5 separate regions of the Homo sapiens genome follow, and all the other regions are linked to region 1. The links come from fine-mapping of genetic effects on gene expression. A gene starts in region 1. Each other region holds a variant in brackets. All regions are shown on one strand. Distances are from middle to middle. Region 1 holds the start of PPP1CC (protein phosphatase 1 catalytic subunit gamma). Region 2 overlaps CCDC63 (coiled-coil domain containing 63). Region 3 has its middle 20 kb from the start of C12orf76. Region 4 has its middle 29 kb from the start of CCDC63. Region 5 has its middle 19 kb from the start of CCDC63.

Region 1 (5,104 bases):
CTTAGATATCTACATATCCTCAATGGATCATCTTCAACTGTTTCTCTGCCAATTTAACACCCACGAGAAAAAAAGAAATTTAAGTATACTTTGCAGTTAGCCTATTCCCAAGGCATTAAAATGCACTGCTTTATTAATTTCAGCAAAAAATGAAATATAAGAAAACCTGGTTTTCAAGTGCCACATAACAAGAGGAACTATTAAGAAACAATGATCTCATTTTAGATGTATCATTACTTACCAGGCAAAGTACTTATTACAATTTTAAAGATCAAAATTAACAAAAGCTGTTTATGAATAGAGGCAGTTATGGGCAAACCAGAACTTAAATTAGCAAGCCTTAGATGATCTTAAAATTCTAATGTTTCTAATCCATGCAAATTCCAACTTTTCCTGTTTCCTCAGAGAAATAAAGCCACACATATCCCTGCAGAGATAAGCAGAATTTTAAAATTTAGAAAGAAAATATTTAACAAAAAGTTCCTTTCTTACAGCAAACTATTTTAATCAGTTTCTGACCAACTGCTGCCTCGAATAAATTAAAGAACTATATTAACTAGTATGAAAAAGTATGGTTCTTATATAAATACCTGGCATTAAAAGAATGACAAGGTTTTCACCTACAATACAAGGTTTTCACCTGCAATAACATTTCAAGAGCATTTCAGGGGTCCTTAATGACATTTAGTGTTTTTTTTGTTGTTTTTTTTTTAAAGACAGCATAAAAGGAAAGAATGCACAGATTAAGAAAAGGACGAGATATTTTCAGGAGCTTCATTTTAATAACTTACTTTAAAAGATCTGTAAATTCTAACACCAGAGCTGTCCAACTGTTCATGCCCTCGACTCCACCACTCACAGCATTTATAGTCCAACAATATTTTAGGACTGTATAAAGGCAAAAAGCAGTTGAAACTGCCAAGTTCCCATTATGAAGTGTCCAAGTTAGGGGATATGACTGAATTCTTACAAAGTCTTGGATAAGATGTTAGCATCCGTTGACATGCCCTTGAATCTGAAAGCAGCTCATTTCAGCTTCCGTCTTTAAAAGCTGAACCTCGCCCCTCTCCCACATCAACATGAATCAATTGCCAGGCACCTCACAAGTCTTAGATGAGCCGAAATTTAAAGCTTTCTATTAACCTTTACTTAACCACTGGCCACCTTCCTTCCTACATAAGGTGACAGTGTTGTCTGTAGAGGGTTCTAGCTCCCGGCTATGTGGATTTGAAATCCAACTGTCACTAACTGTGTGACCTTGGTTAAGTGACTTCATCTCAGTTTCTTCTGTAAAATAACAAAAACAAAAAAAATTGCAAATATCTTGCAATGGGTGGGAGAATTAAATGAAATCTGTCTTAAGTGCTCAAAGAATGCCTGACACACAGTAAGCGCTTTAGAAGCGTCAGTTATGATTACAGTAATAATTCATGGACGCAAAGTGCTTAAGACAGAGCCTGGCACATTGGAAAGATAATGATAGCGTCAGCCTCGTTGGCTTCCTCTTCAGATGCACGCTCAGGAAAAGAGCGCGGAGACCTCTCCAAGATTAGAACAACTTAAAAGGATTTGGAGGGCAGGCGAAGACAGGTTCTCACACCTCTTGAGACATGAACGCTTGTTACCAAGTAACAAGAAATGGGCCCCCCAAGACCCCAGAACCACGAAAAATAAAAATAAAAGCAAGCAGGAAAAGAGCCCCCAAACCCGGCGGAACTCATGCCCTCATCAAACTGCCTTCCGAGAGGACGAGCACCGAAAAGTCCATCTCGCACAGCACGGCACACGTCGTCCAGGAGGCTGGACTGGGATCCCCAACCATCGCTCCAAAGACCCGTCCAGTGCGCGGGGGCAAACGGGTAGGGGCGGGAAACGTGGGGGTGGGGAGCGGAGTTTTCAAATTCCACGGCCGGGAGGAAGCCTGCATCCTCGTGCAATGAATGAGCGGAGCCTGGAGGGTCCGCAGCTGGCGACAAGTTGGGAATCCCGGGCTGGCCTCCCTCCGGCTGCAGTCCCCGGCCCGTGGGCCAACTCGAGGAGCTCACTCCCCACGGTGCTGCAAGCCCAACCGGCCTCCCAACTCCCCTCCCTCGAGCCCCCGGGGCCGCCTGCCGCCCTCAGGCCCGCCTCCCCCTTCAGCCGCCCGCCGCCCCCCTTACCTTCCAGCAGCCGTTGGATAATGCTGTCGATGTTGAGTTTATCTAAATCCGCCATCGCCTTCCCACCGCCGACCCTCCCGCAGCGGCGCCGCCGCCGGCTCGCGCCCGGGACTCACACCTCCTTTCCCACGCCACGAGCAGAGGCGGTGGTGGCGGCGGTGGCAGCAGCCGCGGCGGGTCCCCCCCCTGCCACCCCGCTCCCTACTTCCTCCTTCTCTCCCCACTGGAACCACGAGAAGAACAAAATGGCCGCCGACTCCTTAGACAGCCTCGGGCGGCGCACGGATGCGCGCGGGGAGTGCAGCGGCCCGGCCGGGACTTCTTTATGGGCCATAGGGGGCGCGGGAGGGGGCGGGGCCCGGGCGCTGGAGGGGGCGGGGCCCGGGCGCTGGGCGGGGCGCAGATGGCTGAGCGCAACCGCGTCCCCGCATGGGATCCTTCCGCCAAACGGGCCGAGTAAATAGGCCCGCCCCCAATGCCGGGCCCGAGCGAGAGTTGCAAAGTTGCACGCGGGAGTTGGGGCTGGGGGAGGAAATGCAGCTGTGCACACCGCCGGTTGCGGCCATCGCCGGATCTTGTGCATTGAGTCTAGATGTTTGCAGACCTGGACAGGTGGGAGCTCACCGAGGGATTTCGGGGGTCCTGGAACTTACCCTTTAAGATAAATCTGGGGTGAGGATGGAAAAGAATAATAAAGAAAAGAAGGTTGACTTATTTTGGATTCAGATATACTGGAACTTGGGACAAGAGAAAGGTTTATTTGGTAACTAAAAAGAAAAAACCCTCTTTCAGATAAGTCAAAATGTAACAGTTAACTCATTGTGAGTGGTGGGTATATGGGTATTTGTATATATATTTTTTGTGCACTTCTGTAACTTTAGGGGTAAAAAATCCATACTCAAAGAAAATTTTATCATTTCTGTCCCTTGGATTTATCTTCCCTGAACTCGGAAAGTTATGTAATCATCGGGACGGTTATCCCGATTCTAGCCAGGGCAAAGTTGAACGAGCGCGTGCAGCAGTTAAAAGGGGAATTTGCAGATTTCACGCGTGCAGGCCGGGGGCGGGAAGAGAAGATGCAAGCTGCGCGGGCGGTCCTGGGTTCTGCAGACACCCGAAGAAACTTTGGCCCATTCCTCTCTGGCTTCCCAGCCTCCCCGAGGGCACTCCTATCCAAGGGGCCCCCAAACTGTGCCACCTCCAGGGGCTGCGCGTCGACTTTGGCTGGGTTTGGAAGTACAGCCCACACTCAGCAAACAGATCGGCTCTCTTTCCTGACCTTTCCATGTACGTTGCTTCCTGCAGCGCTTTACATTTTGCAAAGCCCCCTCTCTCCGAGAAATTCATTTTGTTTCCCAAGGCGTGCAGGATGCACGAATCCCCATCTCAGTATGCCACGAGGTAATTGCACCACCCAGGCATCCTCTTCCAAAGCAATGTCCTCAGGGTGCGGGCTCCATGTCCCCTTACTTGGGCCCCCTCGCTACTGGTGCAGGGCCCTTGAGTTTCAGAACTCAGCCTATCGATCCACTTTCCTCAGGCACTAACTCACTTTCCCCTGCTACAGCTCTGTCCACCAGAAGTCACATAAGTGCCATTTGTCAGGCCAAGGCAATGAGCCCAGTTGGTGACATTCGGAGTTGGTGCCCAGCGCTGCTGTGAACATCTGGCTATGGAGGTCAGGGGGGGCTCTTGCTGGAGTCCACAGGACTTTGGGCTACTCCAGGGCAGGGTGCATCATCGGAATGGCATTTAGGGTAGAAATATGAAAGACAGCAATTCATTCAGCAGACAAATATTTATGGAGTACCCACTCTGTGCCAGGCATTGTTCTAGACAGGGAAGCAGGGGTGATCAAGACAGACAAGGCTTTTTTCTATGGAGAGTCATTTAGTCAGTCAGATGGTAAGCAAAGATGCAAATAAAAATATCAGCTTCTGATAAGTGCAGTGGAGAAAAATAAACAAGAAAAAAAATGCTACTGTGTTCATTTCTTAGTATGTGCCAAAAAATGATCTCATTGAATCCCCAAGATAATCCTAGGAATTATGTCCTATTCCTATCATCCCCATTTACAGATGAAGAAAGTGAGGCACAGAGAGGCTAGGGTGGTTGCTGAAGGTCACACAGCCAGGAAGTTACAGAGTCAGGGCTGGAACTCAGGACAGCCTGAAACCACAGCCCTCGTTCATATTCAGTAAAACCCGGCAGTGAACCCCCAGCAGTGTTCACATCCCTGGCACATACTGGGCACATATCAATTTGGAACCCAGTGGAATGACTGAATTGTGTCTCTGCCCACAATACGAGTGCCATAATTTTCCTCATGCAAAATGGCAGGTGTGTTAACCTCTTGCAACATCATCAGGGCTGGAGGAGGACTTCAGACTGAGCTGGGACATGGGGAGAGCCTCTGTCCCCAGGTTGTTTTCTGCTGGGCAACTCCCCTCCAGAGTTCAGTTCTGCTGGCACATGCCTAAGTGATTAGCTGGCTCTGAGCCTGAGCATGGCATAGCTCACCAGGGTGGGCCCTCACAGCTCCCAGGAACCAGCAAATAGCCGGTGGAGGAAAGCACTGATTCCCTATTCGCCTTTTTCTGCCATTATCAGCACCAGTGGCTTTCCAAAGATGAGTTGATATAAGCATCCTGTCAGAAAGGATACAGCCTAATAAATGGAATGTCCCTTCCCCTCTCTAGGCCTCAGTTTGCCTATCTGTCAAATGAGGAGAGTGGATTAAAGTGCACTTTTCAAACTGTCTTTCCTGGCTCTACAGAGCTTTCTTAGGGGCTGCTGAAGATGATGGGGAGCTGATGATTAGAAGAGAGTGGCTGTGGCCAAATATTGGAAACTCAATAGTGTCTCTGAGGATACTTAGGCTTTGAGGGGGGATCCCAGTGCCTAAAGGGACCTGGCTGATAATACGAAAGAATTCAGCCTCTGGG
Region 2 (5,104 bases), 130 kb after region 1:
ACTGATCATCCTCAATCTACAGTGACTTTTGCATTAAGCAGGGTTCCTTAAATTGCAATCTGGCTTAAGAAAAAAAGGGGAATGTGTTAGTCATAGAATTGAAAGATCCAGAGGAGGAAGTGGGGCCTTCAGGCATAGCTGGATCCAGGTGCTCCATACATGTCTTTAGGACATATTCTCTGTCCACCTCTCCTCTGAGTGGATTTCATTTTTGGGTAGCCCCCAGTGTGAACGAATGCTAGTAGAAATGAAACATCTTTTTCCTAAGAGTTTAATGACGTATTCTGGGGAGAGTTCCCACTGGGCCAGCTTGGGTCATGTGCCCATTTCTGAACCAATCAGGGTGGGTGGTCAGAAGAATGAAATACATGGGCCTGAGTCACATGGCTACCCTGGGGCCCCTCTCCTCCAAACCCACCCACTGCTACCCCAAGTCAGGGAAGGGCAGCCCTATTCAAAATAAGTGGATTAGAGGAGAGGTGGTTCCCCTGGAAAAGCAAAAAGAGTGGAGAAGGAATGATGGACAGGGACAAACCACACATTCCAGTCTGGTTTGTGAAACTGTAGCTCCCACATGAGCTACTAGAGAGAGAAAGTGAATGGATTTGGAAGAAAGCCTGTCATTCCTTCACTAAACAAAGCTCTTAGCTTCCCCCAGACTTTGACCACCAGGCTTTGAGCAGGCATGGTGGGAGCTAATTGGATCTGATCTCTGTCTGCCTCCCCAAGTTGCTGCTGAAGGACTGGGCAGTGTCTTTTTAATATCCATGCCCAGTGATTTGCAACTGTGCCTCAGAATTCCTAGGATATGGGTTAAAAATACAGATTTTTGGATTTCCTCCAGATTCACCAAATCAGAACCTCCAGGGCTTAGATTTGGGCATCTGCACCGTTATTAGCAAACCCAGAGAGACTGAAGGTCCCATTGGTTAAGAATCATAGATTTAATGCCTGGCATGGTGTTTAATGCCTCAGCAAATGTCTGTTGATTGAATGAGTTACTAAATGCATGCATGATTTAATGATGACTTGTCTATAGGTATAATTTTTTTTTTTTTTGAGACGGAGTCTCACTCTGTCACCTAGGCTGGAGTGCAGTGGCACGATCGTGGCTCACTGCAGCCTCAGAGGTCTGCTTTTTTGTTCTAAGTCTATTCAGATGTTCTATTCTTCTCGAGTCAATTTCAGTAGTTTATGTCTTTCTAGGAATTGGTCTATTTCATCTAAATTATGCTAATCTGTTGGTATATAGTTGTTCCTAGTATATCCCTTATACTTTTTCCATAAGATCTGTAGTAATGCTCCTTTTTATATTTCTGAGAGGTCTGTTTTTTGTATCTCAAACTGGTCCCCTCTTCCCTTCATCCCTAACGAGATGTGATTGTGCCTTTTAATAGGTTAAGCAGCTGACCTGGCGCGGTGGCTCACGCCTGTAATCCCAGCACTTTGGGAGGCCAGGGTGTGTGGATCACTTGAGGTCAGGAGTTTGAGGTCAGCCTGGCCACCATGGTGAAACCCTGCCTCTACTAAAAATACAAAAAAATAAAAATAAAAATTAGCCAGGCATGGTGATGCATGCCTGTAATCCCAGCTATTTTGGAGGCTGAGGCAGGAGAATTGCTTGAATCTAGGAGGCGGAGTTTGCAGTGAGCCGAGATTGTGCCACTGTACTCCAGTCTGGATGACAGAGTGAGAACCTGTCTCAAAAAAAAAAAAAAAAAAGGTTAGGCAGCCATCTCTAAAGGCAATTTTGGGGTCTCAGAGTACCCCATGGTCCTAAATATCCTCCACCTACTCAGTGGGGCCTGAGAGTCCTCCCCATAGGTCAGGTCTTTCCCCCCCACAATCAGAGGATAGATAGTATGCTACGGTCCTGGAGCAAAATTCACAGTAAGGAGCAAATGAGTGGTAACTGATAACTTCCCAAGAGGAAGTGGAGGATGCAAAGATAGAATAAGAATGCTCTGCTCCCAGGGACTCCCCTACCTTGTGTGGTGGCTATGGAGACACTCAGGAACACCCAGAGCTCAGACTAGCAGAAGCAAGCAAAAAGCCCAGGATGCAACATTTTAGGAGGCTCTTCTGCTCAGGCTTGTGGAAACACAGGGCTGGCACCTGAGAGTGAGTGCCTCCTTACATTTCATGCCCCGGTTGCTTCACTTGCTTTACCCCAGTGTTGGCCCTGCAGAAACCGAATGTTTCTTAGAACATACTTTGAAAACCTCCAGTGAAATTAAATCCCCTTGCTGTTAGGAATATTTTTTTGTAGTTGTCTCTTTTCAGTGCTTATGGGAGCACTTTACGTGGTCTTTTAAAAAAACTTAAAAAATAATTTTATTAAAAAAAAATAAACCAGATGTGGTGGCTCACATCTATAATCCAAGCACTTTGGGAGGCTGAGGTGGGAGGATCATTTGAGGCCAGGAGTTTGAGACCAGCCTGGGCAACATGGTGAAACTCTGTCTCTACTAAAAATA[C/CA]AAAAAAAAAAAAAAAATAGCTGAGTGTTGTGGCCTGCACCTGTAGTCCTAGCTGCTCGGTAGGCTGAGGTGGGAGGATCACTTGAGCCTGTGATTGCACCATTTTATTCCAGCCTGGTTGACAGAGCGAGACCCTGTTTCATAAAAATAAAAAATAAATTCTACTGTGTATATTTAAGGTATATAATATATTATTTGATACATGTAGATATTAAAGTGGTTACAATAGTGAAGCAAGTTAACATATCTGTTATCTCACATAGTTACCCATTTTTGTTTTTGTGACAAGAACCTCTAAAATCTGCACATTAGCAGGAATCCCAAATACAGTACAATTTTTTTTTTTTTTTTTGAGACGGAGTCTGGCTCTGTCCCCCAGGCTGGAGTGCAATGGCACGATCTTGGCTCACTACAACCTTCACCTCCCAGGTTCAAGCAATCCTCCTGCCTCAGCCTCCCGAGTAGCTGGGACTACAGGTGTGCGCCACCACACCCAGCTAATTTTTTGTATTTTTAGTAGAGACAGGGTTTCACCATGTTGGTCAGGCTGGTCTCAAACGCCTGACCTCACTCAGGTGATCCACCCATCTTGGCCTCCCGAAGTGTTGTGATTACAGGCATGAGCCACTGCGCCTAGCCCCAAATACAGTACAATTAGAGTCCCTGGAGTCCTGATGTTGTACCTTAGGGCTCTAGACTTGCTCATTCTCCATATCTGCTACTTGCTATCCTCTGACCTCCATCTCCCTGCTCCCTTTCCCCCTCACCCCCTCTGCCCTGGTAACCACTGTTTTATTCTCTATCTCTGTATATTTGACTTTCTTTCTTTCTTTTTTTTTTTTTTTGAGACTGAGTCTCATGCTGTCACCCAGGCTAGGGTGCAGTGGCGTAATCTCGGCTCACTTCAACCTCTGCCTCCCAGGTTCAAGCGATTCTCCTGACTCAGCCTACCAAGTAGCTGGGGATTACAGGTGCCCACCAACATGCCTGGCTAATTTTTGTATTTTTAGTAGAGATGGGGTTTCACCATGTTGGCCAGACTGGTCTCGAACTCCTGATCTCAGGTGATCCACCCGCCTCAGCCTCCCAAAGTGCTGGGATTACAGGCATGAGCCACTGCGCCCAGCCTTGACTTTTTTTTGTTTAGAGTCCACATATAAATGAGATCATGCAATATTTTTCATTCTGCGTCTGGCTTATTTCACTTAGCGTAATGTCCTCCAGTTTCATCCATGTTGTGGCAAATGGCAGAGTCTCCTTTTTTAAGGCTCAGTAATATTTTATTGTGTATATATATGCACACACACACATATGTATCCACATATACATACATATATATACCTATATGCATATATGTATACACACATGTATACATACATATACACATACATATATACACACATATAAGTATGTGCATATATATACACACTCACACACCCCAATTTCTTGTTTTTGAAACAAAGTCTCACTCTGTTGCCCAGGCTGGAGTGCAGTGGCGTGATCTCGGCTCACTGAAACCTCTGCCTCCCAGGTTCAAATGATTCTCTTGCCTCAGCCTCCTGAGTAGCTGGGATTACAGACACCTGCCATCATGCCTGGCTAATTTTTGTATTTTTAGTTGAGACGGGGTTTCACCATGTTGGCCAGGCTGGTCTTGAACTCCTGACCTCAGGTGATCCACCCGCCTTGGCCTCCCAAAGTGCTGGGATTACAGGTGTGAGCCACTGTGCCCAGCCCCCACTTTCTTCATCCATTCATCTGTCAGTGAATACTTAGGTTGTTTCCAAATCTTGGCTGTTGTGAATAATGCTGCAGTGAATGTGAGACTGCAGATGCCCTTACGAGGTGGTGATTTTATTTCCTTTGGGTGTATGCCCAGGAGAGGGATTGCTGGGTCATATGGTAGTTCTATTTTTAACTTCTTTAGAAACCTTCATCCTTTTATTCCATAATGGCTGCACCAATCTACATTCCCATGAACAGTGTAACCAATCACATCGCCTTTAAAAAACAACTTTTAAAAAAGCTAAGACAATTTATAAGACATACAGGAAAGTAGAGGGAATAAAATAATGAGCAAATCTATCACTTTGATTTAATAACTGTTAACATTTGCTTTATTTGCTTCACCATTTTTCCCCTGAAGTATTTAAAGGTGAATTACAAGTGTCACGACATTTCACCCCTAAATACTTCAGTTTGCATATTTTAAAATTAAACTTTTTCTTTCACAGTCATAAGACCAGTATTACACCCTACAAAATGAATAATATTTCCATAATATTACACAATACCTAGTCCATATTAACACGTACCTGGTTGGCCCTAAAATGTCTTTTAAAGGTAGATCCAGTCAAGGTTCACATAATTGTTAGGTCTCTTAAATTTCTTTAATCTAGAACAGTGGCTCTCAATTGAGGGTGATTTTGCCTCCAAAGGGACGTTGTCCCCAAAAGGAGACACTGTTGGTTGTCATAACAGAGTTGGAGGTGAGGGTGCTACCTGCATGTAGTGGGTATTTAATATCCCACAAAGCATAGGACAGCCCCCTATAGCAAAGAATCATCCAGCCCAAAATGCCAGTAGTGCTGAGTTTGAGAAACCCTGCATGAAAACAGCCCCACCCA
Region 3 (5,104 bases), 670 kb before region 1:
CGTGGCTGGATTCTTCTCCTTCTATGGGGTCACCTCCAGAACTGGGTCATCTCTGACCTTCTGACCTCCCCCTCAAGCTCTCACATCACCTAGGTGTCAAGGGTGGGATGAGAATGTGGCAGACCTCATGTTTCTATTTCCCCGAAGATGGTCAGGGGCAGGCCGGGCGCGGTAGCTCACAATTTGGGAGGCCGAGGCAGGCGGATCACTTGAGGCCAGGAGTTCAAGACCAGCCTGGCCAACATGGCGAAGCCCTATCTCTACTAAAATTACAAAAATTAGCCTGGTGTGGTGGCACACGCCTGTAGTCCCATCTACTCGGGAGGCTGAGGCAGAATCACGTGAATCCAGGGGGCAGGGGTTGCAGTGAGCCAAGATCATGTCACTGCACTCCAGCCTAGGTGACAAAGCAAGACTCCATCTAAAAAAAAAAAAAAAAAAAAAAAAAAAAAAAAAAAAACGGCTGGGCGCGGTGGCTCACGCCTGTAATCCCAGCACTTTGGGAGGCCGAGGCCAGCAGATCACCTGAGGTCGGGAGTTTGAGACCAGCCTGACCAACATGGAGAAACCCCATCTCTACTAAAAATACAAAATTAGTAGGGCGTGGTGGCGCATGCCTGTAATCCCAGCTAACTCGGGAGGCTGAAGCAAGAGAATCGCTTGAACCCGGGAGGCGGAGGTTGCCGTGAGCCAAGATCGCGCCATTTCACTTCAGCCTGGGCAACAAGAGCAAAACTCTGTCTCAAAAAAAGAAAAAAAAAATCGGGAGCAGAGGGGCCACGCTTGAGTTGGATTTGCTCCTCCTGGTGTCTGGTGCCTCCCCGACCTCCGTGCTGGGCTCACTTCTATTCAGCTGGAGGAGGCCCAGACCCACAGGTGTGTGGCCACCCACTGGGAAATAGGTGTCCAGCCAGGAGCTCCATTTTAATAGCCACGAACTGGTACAGCAACACCATCTCCATGGCGACGGCCAGCCTGGGACCACGAATGAGAACACAGGCTCACTATTGGCCCCAGTGGAGGCTAACTGGGCAGAGGAGAAGCAGCACCTGTGAGTGGAGTTTGTTCTCCTGTCCCTCTCTCAACCTTCCCTAGTCTGTGGCCATTGGAAAAGCTTCTGTGAGGACTGTTCTCCAGGGAAGAGGGAAATCTTCCCAAGAGAATGCAACCATCTTTTATTCCTTTGCTTACAATCTTCCCATGGCTTCTCAACTCACTCGGAATAAAATCTAAAGAATTCTCCTAGGTGGTGCCATCGTAAGCGGCTTGGTTTAAGCAATAGCTTGGTGGTCACAGAAAACAAATAGTAGTTAAGTACCAAGGTGAGCTGGCAGCCTCTGTGGGCCAAGTCGCACATCCCAAATGAGCAGGTCTTCTGGTGGGACTGAGGAAGGAACCAAGGTAAGAATAGGAGCTCAACAATTACCTAGATAGAGTCTCCACAGCCCAGACAAGCCAGGACTAGAGAAGTAGACTTCAGAAATCCCTGGAATTTCTGGCTTTTGGGAAGACCTTGTAACAGATCACTGTATTTTGTCTGCCTACCCTCCTCACTTCCTTTTCCCATTTTGTCTGGTAACAGGATCTTCCTTCCTAAGGAAAATCCACTGGATGTGGTTCAGTAGGGCTCACACTGCTCCGTCATCTTCTCGAACTCCAGACCTCAGGTGATCCACCCACCTCGGCCTCTCAAAGTATTGGGATTACAGGGGTGAGCCACTGCACCCGGCCGGCTCAGTCATCTTCTCCCTATTTCCTGCCACAGGAACCAGCACATGACCCAGACTGGCCAATGGGATGACACCTTGGCCCAGGCGGTGATTGGTTCAGGGATGGATATGTAATTCACACCCAACCAATCAGAGTCTTTCCCGGGACTTTCCTAACAGAGCATCAGGAAAGACTTGTTGGCTCCTCTGAGGTTGCTAAGAAGAGAATGTAAGGATTTCATGCTACATAGAGAGCTGTTCAAGAAGGAAGCCAAAGGCCGGGTGCGGTGGCTCACGCCTGTAATCCCAGCACTTTGGGAGGCTGAGGCAGGCGGATCACCTGAGGTCGGGAGTTTGAGACCAGCCTGACCAACATGGTTAAACCCTGTCTCTACTAAAAATACAAAAAATTAGCTGGGCGTAGTGGGGCATGCCAGCTACTCAGGAGGCTGAGGCAGGAGAATCGTTTGAACCCGGGAGGCAGAGGTTGTGGCGAGCCAAGATCGCGCCATTGCACTCCAGCCTAGGCAACAAGAGGGAAACTCCGTCTCAAAAAAGAAGAAGAAGGAGAAGGAGAAGAGAAGAAGAAGAAGAAAGAAGAAGAAGAAGAAGAAGAAGAAGAAGAAGAAGAAGAAGAAGAAGAAGAAGAAGAAGAAGAAGAAGAAGAAGAAGA[AGAAGGC/A]GGCCAAATAGAAGCAAATGGAACCAAGACGTAGGGAGAGAGAACCTACCTGATGACATAGTGTGAACCCTTATCTTCATCCATGTCCAAGGACAGCACAATCTCTTCAACTGCCCAGTTACATGATTCAATAAATTCCCCTTTGAGGCTTTGTGGTTAACGTAAGCTGGGTTTCTGTCACTTACTGCGCAAACAATCCTGGCTAACATAGACCTGCTTAGCATCCTATCTACATAAACCTGCAACGCTAACTCCTCTTGTAGCTGCATCCCTGCCTCTGACTCCAGATCTGAACTTAGTTGTGAGAATAGAAGAAGCTGGACAGGTTCTTGTTTAATTTCCCCCATAACCAGTCCCCAGTTTCTATCCCAGTTTCAGTAACTGAGGCCCTGTCTCCTTATTCTGGCTCTTTATCCTTCCAGCCCCAGTAGGGACAGCTGGCCAAAACCTGCCACTTGCTACTGTAACCTGAACATTGCTCTAGCCTGTCTGGATTGCCACCTATGGTCCACACCAGTACTACTTGGTGCAAACTACTTCCGCCAATCCCTACACCCCATTGGTATACCCGCTACACAGATGGCTAAGTCATGGTTACATAAACTTAAGGCTTCACACTGCAACTTAAGGCAGCATTTCCCAAGCTGTGTACTGTGAGACTCCATTTGGTGAGATGATAGTAGATAGTCCATTAACAAAGAGGAAAAAAGCAAACTGGCAATAGTTTTTTCTTCAATTTTATATTTTAAAATATAAACTGTGGAGAAACGTTTTACATGGAGGTTATCTTCTAAAGACGGCACTTCAGATAAAAATCATGGCTCATCGCCAGGCACGGTGCCTCACGCCTGTAATCCCAGCATTTTGGGAGGCCAAGGCGGGCGGATCACGAGGTCAGGAGATCGTGACCATCCTGGCTATCATGGTGAAACCCTGTCTCTACTAAAAATACAAAAAATTAGCGGGACATGGTGGCGGGCGCCTGTAGTCCCAGCTACCCGGGAGGCTGAGACAGGAGAATGGCCGGAACCCGGGAGGCGGAGCTTGCAATGAGCCGAGATCACACCATCGCACTCCAGCCTGGGTGACACAGCGAGACTCCGTCTCAAAACAAACAAACAAACAAAAAAACCCATGGCTTATCAAAATTGCCTTTTAAACCCTTAAATTGTCCACATAGCACAGCAAACAACTCCTTCTTCCCAGTGGGTCCACTGGAGCCAATTTCTAGCTCCGGAACAAGTTGCTGTTATTACAGTTTTGCTCCAGGTGAAGGTGAAGGAATTGGCTTATTTTAGGGGTCATGTGGCTGAAAATTATGTACCTAGATTTAAAGGCAGAGCAGCAAGATGCTCACTCTGTGAGAAGCACATGAGAACAGAGAATGATGGAGGGAACCCCCAGATGCAAGTATCCCATTTCACACTTACTCCAGGGAACCCAGTTGCTGAATAATTGTACTAGTTATATTATTCTCTCTCTCCATGTCCCCATGGAACATGTATAACTGAATTTGAGGGAGTTAAATACATGTAAGTTATGATTTCATCATGTGAAAGAAAAATATTCATCATTATAAGGTGTTCTCATAGTAATGTTTTTATATATACAATGATCTGCTTTTAAAAAATTGTGGGCTGGGCATGGTGGCTCACACTGTAATCCCAGCACTTTGGGAGGCCAAGATGGATGGACTGCTTGAGCTCAGGAGTTCAAGACCAGCCTGGACAACACGGTGAAACCCTGTCTCTACCAAAAATACAAAAAAATTAGCTGGGCGTGGTGGTTCCAGCTACTCAGGAGGTTGAGGTGGGAAGACTGCTTGAACCTGGGAAGCAGAGCTTGCAGTGAGCCAAGATCATGCCATTGCACTCCAGCCTAGGTGACAGAGTAAGACCCCATTTCAAAAAAAAAAAAAGAAAAAGAAAAAGAAAAGAAAAGAAATTGTAGGTCAGGAACGGTGGTTCACACCTATAATCCCAGCACTTTGGGAGGCCAAGATAGGAGGATTGCCTGAGGCCAGGAGTTTGAGACCAGCCTGGGCAACATAAGGAAAGCCCTGTCTCTACAAAAACAATAAAAAATTAGCCAGGCGTCATGGCATGTGCCTATGGTCCCAGCTACTTGGGAGGATGAGGCAGGAGGATCACATGAGCCTGAGAAGTTGAGGCTGCAGTGAGCTGTGATCACGCCACTGCACTCCAGCCTAGTGACATAGTGTGACCCTCTCTCACTTTTTAGAGAAAAAAGTAAGAAAGAAAGAAATTGTATGCTGGGCCCAGGAATGTCAGGAAGTCCCATCACCTGCTACATGGAATTATGACATGTAATCCCTGTATTAATGCAGAAGGGGGCATTTACTAATTATGCTCTTTTCCATTGGTCCTATGATAGCTGCTCTAAGTAATATGTCTTGTTTTCGATTTCAGCATGTTTTGTTTTGTTTTTGTTTTTGTTTTTGAGATGGAGTCTTGCTCTGTCATTCAGGCTGGAATGAAGTGGCATGATCTCAGCTCACTGCAACCTCCACCTCCCAGATTCAAGCAATTCTTGTGCCTCAGCTTACCGAGTAGCTGGAATTATAGACACACACTACCCCGCCCAACTAGCTTTTGTATTTTTAGTAAAGACGGAGTTCCACCATGTTGGCCAGGCTGGTCTCAAACTCCTGACCTTAGGTGATTTGCCTGCCTTGGCCTCCCAAAGTGCTGGGATT
Region 4 (5,104 bases), 75 kb after region 1:
TGGTCTGAATGGGAATTCATGATACAAGAGGGCAGTATTGTGTCAGCCTGGCCCTGGTTTTGGGACCTGAAACGTTTGGGGCATTTTTGGGTGGGTGGTAGGTGACAGTGAGATGTTTTGCTCTGACACATGCCCAGGGTCACCTGGTCCAATTCCTGCTCAGCTACTTCCAAGCCTTGTCACTCTGGCAAGTTCCCTAACCGCTCTGTGCCTTAACTTATCCTTCTGTAAGATGGGGATAACCACATTACCTGCCTCAGAGGTAATGTTGTGAGGGTTAAATGAATGAATGTATTAAAGAGCTCAGAGCAGCATCTGGTAAATATTTCATTACATTAATGTTAGCTATCATCATCATCATCATTGTCATCTCACCTGTTGGACAACCCATGTGTGTGTGACTGAGGAAATGGAGCATCTTTGGCGAATTCCCTCCTTCCCTTGCTGCCTGGATCTCATCTGGTGCAACTGAGCTGGTCTCTGCTGAATTATTTTACTTCTTTGTCCTCTGCAGCCAAATGGAGACCTCTCCCTGACTCTGCCTGGCCTTCAGACACTTTCAGAAGGCGGTTAACACCATCTGGCCTTGAGAATTCTGAGTCTTTATATTTCAGGATTGAGCTGAGACCTTTGTGAAACATCATCTCTGGGAGGGCCAGCCTGGGCCCAGCTCACAGACATAAGCTGTCCTCATATCCCAACTTCTCATTGACTCACACACGCACTCAGTGCTTTATTGAGCACCTAGTGTGTGTCAGTTGCTGGGCAAGGTGCCAGGGCTGTACTGTAGCAAGGAAAACAGGAGACAAGGTCCCTGCCATCATGAAGCTCATGTGCTACAGGGAGTGACAGACAGCAGGTAAGTAAACAATAACAAATGAATATATAATAGCAGAGAAAAATAACAGCAATGGAAACAAGCAAAGCAGGGGAAGAGGGTTAGACAGTGACTGGGATGGGGAGGTGGATGGTATGTGAGTATTTTAAACTCAAGGAGGTGCTTCTTCCTGGGATGCTCTGGGATATTCTGGGATACCTGAGATAGCCAGGTAAAATCCACTAGGAATTCGTTGCTGACACTGAGGCAGGAGAATAGCGTCTGCAGGCAGGGAAACTAAGGTCAGTTCATGCTGACTTCCTAGAACTAAATCAAAAGGAAAGTCCCAACTTTCCAAGCCCAAGTAACAAAAGGACCAGAGGAACAAAGGACCAGAGGCTGGACTGTGCCCAGCCTGTTCTTCCTACAATCTTTATGCAGATATAGATGAATGTGAAAACAAGAGAGTTTTAAAAAGTCTGAAAGGAGCTAGTTAGAATGTCAATAGAGGTTGCTCACAGAACTGTAAGAGGCAGAGGAGATAGAGGGTGGAACTTCGTTTCTGAGCCTGGCTGCCTGGGTTCATATCCTAGCCTTGCCACTTGCTAGCTGTGAGAAGAGGGCAAATCACTTCACCTATGTATGCCTCAGTTTCCTCATCTGTAAAATGGTGCAATAATGACATGCAGGTATGAGATTATCTTCCTATTTATAAAGCACTTCCAACAGATCTAGTACGTAATGAATCCAATCTAAGTGTTTTTTTCTAACTGTGTTGAAACAAGTGGGCATGAAAAGATTCCTTTTCCACCCTGAGCTACAGATTGAGAAGTTTTTGGGGCTGGGTTCTGCTACCTGTATTAAATATATTTTTTTAAATTAAAAACCTTTTGTTATAGAAAATGTTGAACATACATGAAAGTAGAGAGAATGTTACCTTTTTTTCTAAATTGAGATGGAGTCTCGCTCTGTCGCCCAGGCTGCAGTGCAGTGGCGCGATCTCGGCTCACTCCAAGCTCCGCCTCCCAGGTTCACGCCATTCTCCTGCCTCAGCCTCCCGAGTAGCTGGGACTACAGGCGCCCGCCACCACACCTGGCTAACTTTTGTTTTTGTATTTTTAGTAGAGACGGGGTTTCACCGTGTTAGCCAGGGTGGTCTCGATCTCCCGACCTTGTGATCCACCCGCCTCGGCCTCCCAAAGTGCTGGGATGAGCCACCCACTACAGGCGCCCACCACCACGCCCGGCTAATTCTTTGTATTTTTAGTAGAGATGGGGTTTCACAGTGTTAGCAAGGATGGTCTAGATCTCCTGACCTCATGATCTGCCCGCCTTGGCCTCCCAAAGTGCTGGGATTACAGGCGTGAGCCACCGCGCCCGGCCAGGTGTTTGTTTTTATCCTCCTATTTTTTCCATTTCTAGCACTTTCCATATCTGTAAAATAGGATTAATAATAGTACCTATCTCATAGGGTTATTGTGAGAATTAAATGAATTAATGCTTATAAAATGCTTATAAAATGTTAAAAAACACGGCCTCCCAAAGTGCTGGCATGAGCCACCATGCCCGGCCACAATTTTTTATTTTGTTTCTTTTCTTTTAAGACAGAGTCTTGCTCTGTCGCCCAGGCTGGAGTACAGTGGCACCATCTCAGCTCACTGCAACCTCTGCCTCCTAGATTCAAGTGATCCTCCTGTCTCAGCCTCCCGAGTAGCTGGGACTGCAGGCATGTGCCACCATGCTCCACTAATTTTTTGTATTTTTAGTAGAGATGGGGTTTAACCATGTTGGCCAGGCTGGTCTTGAACTCCTGACCTCAAGTGCTCCATCTGCCTTGGCCTTCCAAAGTGCTGGGATTACAGGCATGAGCCACTGCACCTGGCCTATTTTTTTATTTTCTTGAGACATGGTCTCCCTCTTTTACCTAGGCTGGAGTGCAGTGGCACGATCATGGCTCAGTCACCTCAAACACCTGGGCTCATGGGATCCTCCCACCTCAGCCACCTGAGTAGCTCAGACTATGGGTGTGCACTACTGCACCCAGCTAATTTTCTAATTTCTTTTGTAGAGACGGGGTCTTGCTATGTTGCCAGGGCTGTTCTTGAATTCCTAGGCTCAAGAGATCCTCTTGCCTCAGCTTCCCAAACTGCTGGAATTATAGGCATGAG[C/T]CACCTTCCTTGGCTCAGAATATTATAATTAACCTTTGTACACCCATTGTTCATGTCAATGATTAGCAACTCATGGTGACACCTGCATTTTTAACAAGGCCCTGGTGCACACTACATCTTGAGAAACCCCCAGTGGAATTCCAGGACGCTCCTGAGGCTGTTACTGGAAAGGGGTCCCGATCCAGACTCCAAGAGAGGGTTCTTGGATCTCTCGGAAGAAAGAAGTCGAGTGAGTCCATAGAGTAAAGTGAAAGCAAGTTTATTAGGAAAGTAAGGGATAAAAGAATGGCTACTCCATAGACAGAGCAGCCCTGAGGGCTGTTAGTGGCCCTATTTTTATGGTTATTTCTTGATGATATGCTAAACAAGGGGTGGATTATTCATGCCTCCCCTTTTTAGATCATATACGGTAACTTCCTGACATTGTCATGGCATTTATAAACTGTCATGATGCTGGTGGGAGCGTAGCAGTGAGGACGACCAGAGGTCAAGTCTTGTTGCCATCTTGGTTTTGGTGGGTTTTAGCCGGCTTCTTTATTGCAAACTGTTTTATCAGCCAGGTCTTTATGACCTGTATCTGCCTACCTCCTATCTCATCCTGTGACTTAGAATACCTTAACCATCTAGGAATGCAGCCCGGTAGGTCTCAGCCTCATTTTACTCAGCCCCTATTCAAGATGGAGTTGCTCTGGTTCACATCCCTCTCACAAGGCCTGTTGGATACATGTTAGTTTGTTGGGATTTTGCTAGACAAATTGCTAATCTTGAAATCAGAAAAGATGATAACAAAAAACTTTTTTTCTCTCCCAAGAAAAATTTTGTCTGCTCCTAAGAAGAGGATTTTCTGTCCAAGTTCAGTGGACGAGAGCACCAGACACCCCCTGGAAAGACTCAAGATTCCAGCCCTGTCCTGTGGTCCCTTCAACTGACAGCAACCACTCACTCCCCAGCCCCACTTACTATCAAGGGAGCCCAGGGCCTGCTTCACCCAGGCCCTGGGAACAAGATTTGAGAAGCAAATGAATTGTGTGAGTTAATTCAAGGGCCACCTTTGGCTCCCTTAGCAGCACAAATTGTCCCTGAGGACATTGACTCGATTCTTGGATACAAAGGGAGATACGAATTTACCTTTGACTGCTCTCTGGGCATTAAAGCTGGTCTTGAATGTTTTCTCTGGGCGGTTCCCTGTCATTAGGGAGGTGCCCACATTTACCAAATCAACGAGCCCGATTTCACCTGGTCACACCCTTCCTTGGCACAGAAAACAGTGACTTCTTTTTCCTCCTGCTAATTTGCTGTCAAGATGTTCTACTAATCATCATCATAATTACTAATATTCACTGCCCACTTAGTAAGCTCTTTATACCCATTAACTCAATTCATTCTTGCAACGACCTTGTGAGGTGAAACTATTGTTACCCACAGATCACAGAAGAGGACACCGAGGCCTACAGAACTGTGGCAAAGACTGCTCCATGTTCCCAACATCCATTTTTTTCCCTCTTTCAAAGTAAAAGAAATCCAATTTTACTAGGGAACATGGCTGTCCAGAATTCCCAGCCTCCTTTGTGGGTAAGTGTGGCCATGGGACTCTGGTATGGGCTAAGGATGTCGGGGGAAGAGTCCCGCAGTGGTTCTGAAACACTCTCTCTAAGAGGTCACTGCTTCTTCATCCCTTCTTTTATTCTGGCATCTGGAACTTGAAGGCCACCATCTTGAACTGCGACGTAGGAGTGCCCTGAATGGAGGTGCATCTGGCTGGGAGGATACCATTGACCACCATAACCAGGCCTAGTTAAGAAAGAAATAAGCTTCTTCCTTCTTTATTCTTCCTTTTTCCTCCTCCTCCTCCTCCTTCTTCTTCTCCTTCTACTTCTCCTTCTTCTTCTTCTCCCCGTTCCCCTCCCCTTCCCTTTCCCCCTCCTTCCCCCTCCCTCCTCCTCTCCCCCTCCTCTTCTTCTTTCTTCTTCTCCCTCTCCTCTCCCCTTCCTTTCCCCCTCTCCCTCCCTCCCCCTCCTCCTCCCCTCTCCCCAGTCCCCTCCTTCTTCTTCTTCTTCCTCTTTCTTCTTCTTCCCTCTCTCCCCTCCCCTTCCCTTTCCCCCTCCCCTTCCCTCCCCCT
Region 5 (5,104 bases), 85 kb after region 1:
ACCAGAGGGAAAAGAGGGAGGGAGAGACAACAACTTACAGTTCAAGGAAAACTCTTTGGTGATGGCAGAGGTGCTCTGAGAGGGAAGGGATGGACTGTGGCTGTGAAGATGTGTGTGGTGTTGCATCCACCCAAACTGAAGATCTCTGGAGATAGAACAGCAGGCTAGAGAGTGCACAGGCCCTGGATTAAATAAAATTTTTGATTTTTTGTTTGTTTCTTTTTCTTTTCTTTTCTTTCTTTTTTTTTTTTTTTTAAGACAGAGTCTCACTCTGTCACCCAGGCTGGAGTGCAGTGGTGTGATATCAGCTCACTGCAGCCTCCACGCCCCAGGTCCAAGCAATTCTCCTGTCTCAGCCTCCCGAGTAGCTGGGATTACAGGCATGTGCCACTATGCTGGGCTAATTTTTGTATTTTTAGCAGAGACAGGGTTTTACCATGTTGGCCAGGCTGGTCTTGAACACCTGACCTCAAGTGATCTGCCTGCCTTGGCCTCCCAAAATGCTGGGATTACAGGCATGAGCCACCACACCCGGCCTGTTTTTTTGTCTTTAGAGACAGGGTCTTACTCTGTCACCCAAGCTGGAGTGCAGTGTCAGTGATCATGGTTCACTGCAGCCTCAATTTCCTGGGCTCAAGTGATTCTCCCACCTCAGCCTCCTGAATAGCTGGGACCACAGGTGTGTGCCACCACACCCAGCTAATTTTTAAAATTTTTTGTAGAGATGGGGTCTCACTATGTTTCCCAGGCTGGTCTTGAACTCCTGGGCTCAAGCAATCCTCCCACCTCGACATCCCAAAGTGCTGGGATTACAGGCATAAGCCATCCTTGCCCAGCGTGAAAGAAATTTTGTATTCAAATTCTGGCTCAGTCATTTATTTGACCTGTGACCTGGGGCATATCATGTGACCTCTCTGAACCTCAGTTTCCTCTTTTGTAAAATGAGGAGAAGGCTATTGGGATGATTGCTGAGTGCCTACTCTTGACATGTGGAGCCCTGACTGAGGGAGGCAGTGTTGTCAGCACCACCGCCTTACAGGACCCTGGGGATGGCGTTCACTGTATTGTCTGTGTAAGTGGCGCCCCCTGGTGCACCAACATGAATGGCGTTTCCTGGAATTGTGCAACATGGCAGACTGGATCATGAAACAGAGGCCGGGAGAGGTTAAACCACTTGCCCGAGTCACATCGCAGAGGTGGGATTTGAGATCAGGTCTGTCTGCCTCCACCGCCCAAGCCTATAACCAGCATGCCCTCCTGCCTACTACCAATTTACCACATCTGCAACAGTTCAGCATCCGTGACTGCTTGAATGTCGGGAGACCGCTTCAGCTGTGTAACCTCCTCACGTGGCTCTTCCCACAAGAGTGTGCAACAAATGAGCTCACGCCTGCAAAAATCTCTAGGACACTCCCTTGAGTGTGGTGGCCACTCGGGCAGGGAGGGCTGAGCGTAAAAATCAGAACAGTGAGGAGGAGGCTTGCTGGGAGATTGCCCCCACTTGAAGTTAAGTGTGAGAGGGGAAATCCTAAGAGAGAGAGGTGACAGCCCTCCCCGGAGCATTTTCTTTCTTTCTTTCTTTTTTAAACTTTTTAAATTAAAAATAATTTTTTTTAAGACGAAGTCTCATTCTGTCGCCCAGGCTAGAGTGCAGTTAGCAGGATCTCAGCTCACTGCAACCTCCACCTCTCTGGTTCAAGCGATTCTCCTGCCTCAGCCTTCAGAGTAGCTGGGACTACAGGTGCATGCCACCATGCCCAGCTAATTTTTGTATTTTTAGTAGAGACGGGGTTTCACCATGTTGGCCAGGCTGGTCTCGAACTCCTGACCTCAAGTGATCCACCCACCTCAGCCTCCCAAAGTGTTGGGATTACAGGTGTGAACCACCACGCTGGCCCCCAGGGCATTTTCAATAAAAGGGAAAAGCCCAGGAGGCCTTGGCCCAGAGGCAAAGAAGTAAAGGGAGCCGGGCAAACAATGTAGGGAGTGGTGGGAGGCGTGCTCAGCTCCCAAAAGGACTGCTGGGTCTCCAGATGTATCAGTTAGGGTCCCCTGGAGACAGTCACATGGGAGTGACAAGCGAGTGTGTGGGCAGGATGGGGAGAGCCAGCAGGGATGGCGAAGTGCCTGGGACTGGCAAGTGCAGGGGAAAGACTGTTCTGGAGTCTGAGATCAGAAGCTGTGAGAGAGGGGCTCCCTGATAGGAGCTCTCAATAGAGGAATAGCTACCTGCATCTGACAGCGCGGGGCAGCCTCCACAACCTCATGGACTGAGCGCCGGGAGATGGAATGACCCTCCAGAGGGAAATTGATGTGCTCTTACAAGAAGGCGGAAAAAGACAACAGCGGGTCCTTACACAGCCCTGAACAGGATAATTTTTCTTTTCTTTTCTTTTCTTTCCTTTTCCTTTTCCTTTTTTCTTTTCTTTTCTTTTCTTTTCTTTTCTTTTTTCTTTTCTTTTCTTTTCTTTTCTTTT[C/CTT]TTTTCTTTTCTTTCTTTCTTTCTTTCTTTCTTTCTTTCTTTCTTTCTCTTTCTTTCTTTCTTTTTTTTCTTTCTTTCTCTCTCTCTCTCTTTCTTTCTTTCTTTTTTTGAGACGGAGTCTTGTTCTGTCGCCCAGGCTGGAGTGCAATGGCATGATCTTGGCTAACTGCAACCTCCGCCTCCCGGGTTCAAGTGATTCTCCTGTCTCAGCCTTCCGAGTAGCTGGGACTACAGGTGCCCACCATGCCTGGCTAATTTTTGTGTTTTGTTTTGTTTTGTTTTTTGAGATGGAGTCTCACTCTGTTGCCCAGGCTGAAGTGCAGTGGCACGGTCTCTGCTCACTGCAACCTCCGCCTCCCAGGTTCAAGCAATTCTCCTGCCTCAGCCTCCCAAGTAGCTGGGATTACAGGCACGCACCACCATGCCTGGCTAATTGTTGTATTTTTATTAGAGATGGGATTTCACCATGTTGGCCAGGCTGGTCTCAAACTTCTGACCTCAAGCGATCCACCTGCCTCGGCCTCCCAAAGTGCTGGGATTAAGGTGTGAGCCACCGTGCCTGGCCAATTTTTGTATTTTTAGTAGAGATGGGGTTTCATTATGTTGGCCAGGCTGGTCTCGAAATCCTGACCGCAAGTGATCCACCCACCTTGGCCTTTCAAAGTGCTGGGATTACGGGCATGAGCCACCACGCCCAGCCCAAACAGAATAATTTCAGAACATGCTGGCAGCTCTCAAGTTTTTTTAGTTTGATGACTATTGATTTGATCAGCTTTTATTTTCTGGGACATTAAATTGTATGGAATTTGGTGGAAGTTTAAAAGGGCACAGATTCTGGGCAGGGTGGGTGGCTGGGGGGAGGGGGCCAAGGGCTGAGGCCATGGGTGTTTAACTACAGCTCTTCCTCAGGTGGCCTTTGTGTTCAAGCCACTGATGCTCCCAGAAGGTGAAAAACGCACCATCCCCAAACTCCCTGCCGTTATTAATCAGCAAACGTGTCAGGGGCAGGTGCGCATGAGTGAATTTTGGGGTCACAGAGGGTAATCAGGTCTGGCCGGGCTGAAGCAGGTGACCCGACTGTCCGCCTGATCCTGAGCTATTGGATAAGGAGATTAATCTAATTCTGTCTGAGGAGAGGATGGCTTTTTGAGAAAGCGTGGGACTCAGAAAATGAAAGTTGGATTTAGACCTCAGGCTAAATTCCCAGCTCCGGGGCCAGCGTGACCTGAAGCGTGTTCCCTGGGTATCTTTTGGCAAGGCTGTCATTGTGCTTGAGCACCCAGTATGTGAGGGAAGAAAACACAGAGCTCAAAGGGGCCTGGGAGGAATGGAAATAGGAAATTGGGGCGGGAGCTGGGGCGAAGTGGGGAGTCCATGCCCTCCTCGAGGGGTTAATTAAGACCCAGTGCTAGCTGACCGTCATGCCTAGAGTCAGACATTTGGGGTTCAGATCCTGGTTCTGCCCTTTACTCGTCGTGTGACACTGGACAAGTCACTTCACCTCCTTGTGCCTCAGTTTTCTCATCTGTAAAACTGAACAATAGCAGAACCCATCTTGGCCGGGTGCAGTGGCTCACACCTGTAATCCCAGCTCTTTAGGAGGCTGAGATGGGTGGATCACCTGAGGTCAGAAGTTCAAGACTGGCCTGGCCAACATGGTGAAACCCTGTCTCTACTTAAAATACAAAAAAAAAAAAAAAAAAAAAAAAATTAGCCAGGCGTGGTGGTATACATCTGTAATCCCAGCTACTTGGGTGGCTGAGGCAGCAAAATCGTTTGAACCCGGGAGGCGGAGGTTGCAGTGAGCCGAGATCATGCCATTGCACTCTAGCCTGGGTGACAGAGTGACACCCACTCAAAAACAAACAAAAAAAACAGAACCCATCTCACAGAGTTGTTCTGAGGGCTGAGTGGGTGAAAGTTCTGCAAGTGCTTAGAACAGTGTGTGGTGCATAGTAAAAAGTATTATATGCCAGGCGGGGTGGCTCGCACCCATAATCCAGCACTTTGGGAGGCCGAGGTGGGAGGATCACTTGAGCTCAGGAGTTCGGGACCAGCCTGGTAACCTAGGGAGACACTGTCTCTACTTAAAAAAAAAAAAAAAAAAAATTAGCCGGGCATGGTGGCGCATGCCTGTGGTCCAAGGTACTCAGGAAGCTGAGGAGGGAAGATAACCTGAGCCTGGAAGTTCAAGGCTACAGTGAGCTGTGATCACGCCACCACATGCCAGCCTGGTGACAGAGTGAGACCCTGTTTCAAAGAAAAAAGGCATTATTTATAACATTTGCTAAATAAATTAGGTAAATAAGAATGTAACCCTTTTTGTTGCCAGATCTTCTAATCTTTCGAGGAAAGTGAATCTGGAAATCCAAATTTTCATAATCCTATTAATGCCAAACACTCAGGCAGTTCCAAAACACCTTAATATGTTAAATATTAACAAAACGTTATGACGTAGATATGGTTATTACTCCCATTCTACAGATGGGGAAACTGAGGTACAAAGATGTCACATAATGAGTGCTGGGCTGGGCGTGGTGGCTCATGTCTGTAATCCCAGCACTTTGGGAGGCAGAGGCAGGCGGATCACTTGAGGTCAGAGTTCAAGACCAGCCTGGCCAACATGG

What was found.
Region 2: its variant is fine-mapped to the expression of PPP1CC in whole blood (INTERVAL, PIP above 0.99).
Region 3: its variant is fine-mapped to the expression of PPP1CC in whole blood (INTERVAL, PIP above 0.99).
Region 4: its variant is fine-mapped to the expression of PPP1CC in transverse colon (GTEx, PIP above 0.99).
Region 5: its variant is fine-mapped to the expression of PPP1CC in whole blood (INTERVAL, PIP 0.97).

The regions. Positions count from the first base shown.
Region 1 is chr12:110,740,494-110,745,597 of GRCh38, forward strand. It overlaps PPP1CC (protein phosphatase 1 catalytic subunit gamma), which reads right to left and starts at 2,398. Exons shown (of 7, transcript NM_002710.4): 1 at 2,160-2,398. The coding sequence starts at 2,214. RefSeq lists enhancers at 2,123-2,631, 3,393-3,977 and silencers at 2,269-2,328, 2,489-2,628.
Region 2 is chr12:110,874,402-110,879,505 of GRCh38, forward strand. All of the region lies in intron 5 of CCDC63 (coiled-coil domain containing 63), which reads left to right. Among named protein-coding and RNA genes, the nearest start is that of CCDC63, 30 kb to the left of the region's middle. The variant C/CA (reference allele first, on the strand shown) is at 2,478.
Region 3 is chr12:110,065,945-110,071,048 of GRCh38, forward strand. It overlaps a transcript of C12orf76 not described here. Among named protein-coding and RNA genes, the nearest start is that of C12orf76, 20 kb to the left of the region's middle. RefSeq lists an enhancer at 9-88. The variant AGAAGGC/A (reference allele first, on the strand shown) is at 2,383.
Region 4 is chr12:110,815,680-110,820,783 of GRCh38, forward strand. No RefSeq gene overlaps it. Among named protein-coding and RNA genes, the nearest start is that of CCDC63, 29 kb to the right of the region's middle. The variant C/T (reference allele first, on the strand shown) is at 2,986.
Region 5 is chr12:110,825,773-110,830,876 of GRCh38, forward strand. No RefSeq gene overlaps it. Among named protein-coding and RNA genes, the nearest start is that of CCDC63, 19 kb to the right of the region's middle. RefSeq lists a silencer at 917-966 and an enhancer at 1,147-1,216. The variant C/CTT (reference allele first, on the strand shown) is at 2,478.